Regions from separate parts of the Homo sapiens genome. Here region 1 is linked to region 2. A link means that fine-mapping ties the variant in region 2 to the expression of a gene that starts in the linked region. Tissue or cell type: whole blood. Region 2 holds a variant in brackets; the other region holds the start of a gene. All regions are shown on one strand. Distances are from middle to middle.

The links. PIP is the estimated chance that this variant, and not a neighbour inherited with it, causes the effect.
Region 1: LY9 starts here. The variant in region 2 is fine-mapped to the expression of LY9 in whole blood (TOPMed, PIP above 0.99).

Annotation. Positions count from the first base shown.
Region 1 is chr1:160,794,568-160,797,188 of GRCh38, reverse strand. LY9 (lymphocyte antigen 9) reads right to left here and starts at 1,015. Exons shown (of 10, transcript NM_002348.4): 1 at 878-1,015. The coding sequence starts at 1,001.
Region 2 is chr1:160,829,281-160,831,889 of GRCh38, reverse strand. CD244 (CD244 molecule) reads left to right here. Exons shown (of 9, transcript NM_016382.4): 9 at 463-1,730. The coding sequence ends at 543. Among named protein-coding and RNA genes, the nearest start is that of CD244, 32 kb to the left of the region's middle. The variant T/C (reference allele first, on the strand shown) is at 1,121.

The DNA of each region.
Region 1 (2,621 bases), 35 kb after region 2:
GGGGTACTGGATTGGCTCTATCTGCTGGACAGTGGGGTTCCGGGCCATGCAGCGGAGAGATGTTTCCCAGGAGTTGGGCCTTGATAGGGAGGAATAAGGTTGAGGAGAAAAGGATATCCAGATAAACGCCACCTTGCCCATGGTCACCTAACCGCGTCCAGGTCCCCAGTGAAACCTCAGTAATAAAGCCAGCATATATGATAACCAAGGCAGGATACATAGAAAGAAGCTCCAGAAGTTCTCTCCATCCCTAGGAAATTGCTAGGTGGCTTCTCATCAGGGGATTTTCCTGGATCCCTCTGTGGGTTTTATCCACACCATACAGGGAACAAACTCATTATATACTTGGCATTTCTTAGGAAAATGTGAGGGCAAGAGAAATGTAGTTTGAGCCCAGAGCTATTTGAGACCGGGGCTAGAATGTTACCCCCTTCATAGTGCACGAATATGCACACATGCAAAGTAATTTCTGGCAAGGAGATGAGTTTCCCGATTTTACCAACAAGAACTGGGCTCACGCCTGTAATCCCAGCACTTCAGGTGGCTGAGCTGGGCAGATCACGAGGTCAAGAGATCGAGACCACCGTGGCCAACATAGTGAAACCCTGCCCCTACTAAAAATACAAAGATTAGCTGGGTGTGTTGGCATGCACCTGTAATCCCAGCTACTCAAGAGGCTGAGGTAGGAGAATCGCTTGAACCCAGGAGGTGGAGGTTGCAGTGAGCCGAGATTGCGCCACTTCACTCCAGCCTGGCAACAGAGTGAGACTCCGTTAAAAAAAACAAAAAACAAAAAAAAGAATCTCCCAGGCAGGGAATGCAACTGGCCTCAGAAGAACCGCAGTAGCAAGAAGTGGTGGCCATAAAGTGGACTTACCCATGAGCAGGAAGAGGAGAGAGGTCTGTAGAACAGAAGAGAATATTTGCAGCTGACTCCTCTGTGGCTTACTGGAGAAAGGCCCAGGAGCCCAGTCATCTGTGTGACTCTTTGGTGCCACCATGATGATCTATTTTCAGAACTGAGACTGAAGGAGGATGCACTTACCACAGCTTCCGCACGTGTCACAGCTTCTGCATGTGTATATGAGTGTGTGTGTGCATGTGTATGTGTATGTGTGTGTGTCTCAGAGGGAGGGTTGTTTATACAAAACACCACAGACTCCTCCCATCTGCGCAGGCAGGTAGAGGTCCCAAGTCTATTCAGGGCCTCATTTGTGACTGATGTGGAGCATCACTTGCTTTGACATCAAGGGACTTGGGTTCTAAATTTGGCTCCTAAAGGTGACTGCTAAAGATCTGTACCTCCTGGCATTCATGCCTCTGTGTAATCACCTCTTCTTTAGTGTGGCCTGGATTTAGTGACTTGCTTCAAGTGAATAGAATGTGGCAGAGATGTGGGATGGGTCACTTCTGAGATTAGGTTACAAAAAAGCTGTGACTTCCATCTTGGGTTAGCATGTGTGTGCATATGCGCTCTCTCTTTCTCTTGCCCTCTCTCCCTCTCTGTCTTTCCCACTATCTCTGTCTCCCTACCTTACACTGAGGGGAGCCAGGTATTGTTTTGTGAGATACTTTAGGGAGAGGGTTCCAAAACAAAGAACAGAGGGAGGCCCCCAGCCAACAATCGGCGAGGAGCTGATTCCTCTGGCCAACTGTCCATGAGGACTGAGGCTAGCCAAGAATCACATGAGTGAGACTGGAAGTGGATCCTCCCCAGGAGGTCCTTGAAATGACTGCAGCCCTGGCTGACACCGTGATGTTAGTTGTGTGAGTACCTTAAGCCAGAGGCACCCAGCTAAGCCATGCCCAGATTCCTTATCAAGAGAAACTGTGAGATAATAAATGTTTGGTTTTTAAATTTTTTTTCAATTTTTTATTTTTCATCAAAAATGCTTATTGTTTTTAGCTGTGAAGTTTGGGGCAATTTGTTACACAGCAACAGATAACTAATACAGTGACCCAATACATTTTCTATTTTGCTCAAGGCAGTTTGTGCTAGCTTTCTGTCACATGCAATGAAGGACTTTTAATATGGACAAAGGCATCAGGGAGACTGCAATGGGGGTGGACATCGTATGTGACAGCGTAGAGGTGACTGAGTTGAAAAGGTAGGCTGGAGAATGGCATGATTCCCTATATCCTGACTTGGGAAACTGTCTTTTTCTCCTCCTTCTTCTTGTCAGTAGCGTAATAGCTGGCCATGCTATGGTTTGTGTTTCGGGCTTCAGGTCATTTGTTTACTTAGGCTGTAACATTAAGGGGACTTGGCAGGAAAACTTGAGGCTGGCAGAATGTGTAGTTTTAGCTAATATTCGATGAAAGCTTACAGAGTGCTAGTCCATCTTCTGACACTTTAACATATTCACTCATTTGATCTTACAATAGTTTTATGAGATATCTTTTATCATCCCCATTCTATAAATGAGAAAACTGAGGTGGAGAGGGGTTAAATAGCTTACTATAAGTTTTATAGTTAGTAAGGACTTGAACCCAGGAAGTCTGGGTTCAAAGGAAGAAGGGAGAGAGAGAGAGAAACCATTAAGATAACAGGCTTATGTCCATGGAAAGCATCTTTAGAGGCTGGTCATGATCTGATGTTGCACAATATTGAAAGTGACAGA
Region 2 (2,609 bases):
CAGAGAAATTAAGGCATGGAGAGCATCCCCCAACCTCCCCCACTACCCATTAGCCTCATACTACACCTGAGCCTCCCCACCTGTGGTCCAATAAAGATGCTGCCATTGGTCAGAAGGGAGGGATGGGTGGCTGCCTGCTGGAATTCCTGGCACTTCAGCTATCACCCAACATTAAAGCCAACTGGACAACCCAGGGTCATAGAGGGCACTGTGTAGACCCAGGTAGCTTGTGAGGTCATGAAAAAGCATATGTGGTTAAGAGAGTACTGGAATTGGAGCCAGAAGAACTAGATTCAAGTCCCTCCTGCACTTCACACTAGTCGTGGATCCTGAGTAATTTGTTTTGTCACTCTGAGCTTCATTTTTTAAATCTGTAAAATGGGGATGGCAAGTCATACCTCACAGGATTGTGATAAGGACCTCCCAGTGCAAGGGTCTGAAGTTTCTCCTTTTCTTTTGCAGATTGGAAAGAGTCAACCTAAAGCCCAGAACCCTGCTCGATTGAGCCGCAAAGAGCTGGAGAACTTTGATGTTTATTCCTAGTTGCTGCAGCAATTCTCACCTTTCTTGCACATCAGCATCTGCTTTGGGAATTGGCACAGTGGATGACGGCACAGGAGTCTCTATAGAACAGTTCCTAGTCTGGAGAGGATATGGAAATTTGTTCTTGTTCTATATTTTGTTTTGAAAATGATGTCTAACAACCATGATAAGAGCAAGGCTGTTAAATAATATCTTCCAATTTACAGATCAGACATGAATGGGTGGAGGGGTTAGGTTGTTCACAAAAGGCCACATTCCAAGTATTTGTAATCTAGAAAGTGTTATGTAAGTGATGTTATTAGCATCGAGATTCCCTCCACCTGATTTTCAAGCTGTCACTTGTTTCCTTTTCTCCCCTCTCTGGGTTGACTGCATTTCTAGACTCTCGCCGGCCCAGGCCCATCTTCCAAAGCAAGAGGAAGGAATGATAATGGTGACTCAGGGGAAGAAGAAACAGCCCTCCTCTGAAAGCCTGGACTGTCCGGCTGTGAACTGGCTGGCAGGTTCTGCACGTGGGTGGGGGCCAGGGCCTGGGCTTTACTCAATTGCAGAGAAAAAACTTTCTCCCTGCATCTCA[T/C]ACCTTTACCTCTGGCCAGTTGGCCACCAGGGGGAGTGGGCTGAAGGGAGAGTAGATGGTGCAAAGCAAGCCCATCTCTAAGTAGAAAAATCACCCAGAGCACATGCTGACCTGATAACTGGGGTGTTGAGACCAGCTTTGTCCATGGTATGATGTTTGATTTATGAAGACGCATTGTTAGAAATCCATTTGGCTTCTTCATAGAAGTGGCTTCCCAGAGGAAGAGGCCTCTCAGAAACCATGTTCTATTTAAGTTCTGAGTCCTGATGAGTGTTCCCCAGGATGCACATTGAAGGGAGGGCTCAGGCAGCTGAGGGCTGAGAATGAGGCAGTTGGAATCTAGACACTATGCTGGGTTCCCTGAGTCGTCAGGCCAGACATTTCAACAAGGCTGTGGGGAGCAGGGCTGTGACTCTGGCTGAGCCCAGGAAAGCGACAAGGGTGAACTGGGAGAGGACTTACTCAGAGACCCCAACAGGTGATACTGCACAAAGCCTGGTTCTTCAATTTTCCTACCCTGTATCTAACATAGGAGTTTCATATAAAACGGTGATATCATGCAGATGCAGTCTGAATTCCTTGCCTGAATTAAATTTATGTATCCTCTCCATACCCTGCATTTTTATTCTCTATAGCAGCCGAAGGGCACTTGTGGGCCATCAACAAACACATGTCTGTTTGAACACTGCTGTAGAGGGTCTGACTTCCTGGTGAGCTGGCAGTGTCCTTCAGCCCTGTTCACACTGGGACAGCAGAGAACTAGACACTAGGGGCTATTCCATCTTGTGAAGGAGAGCCAAGGCACTCACTTGGTCACATCCTGCAGGATCCCTTTCCCCTGAGACTGTGCTGCTGGCCAGGCTGGTTTCCTCCTGGAGAGAAGTGTGAACAGACCACATCTTAAAGCAAGTGAGAAGCTTAAAAACCAGGCAAATATATTCAGAAAGAGCCTGGGGGTCCAAGGCAGGTACTGGGAGTTGAGTTGCAGAGTCAAGGAGTTTAGTGAGTAGAGGCAGCAGGAAATGACGGGGTTCAGAAACAGTCCAGATGAACACCAGGGACTCTGACCATTGACTGCTGCTGGCCTTTCATGTGTCCTGCATAGATCTTGAACTGGCCAGATTTATTTAAGGAGCAGAAGAGACCCTATGGGGTCAGGGCTTTTGAGGATGCTGTATTCTAGAAAGAAAGATGTACAAGGTCATCATGTTATGTGTCTGATTGTTGAGCTTCCGTGACAATGCCTCACAAAGATAATTATCCATGCAACAAGCCAGTCAATGAACAAGCAGTAATTAAGCTCCTGCTGTGTATGAAGCACTGCCTGAACTCCTGGGAGTACCCACTGCAGGTGACAGAAGCCATACTGAGTTCAGGATCATGTGCAGGAGAGCATGACAGAGGCAGCACACAATTAAAGGACCTAGATGGGCTGCAAGGTGATGGTAACAGAAATGTACACTAGAGTATCACGAATATAAGTCAAGTA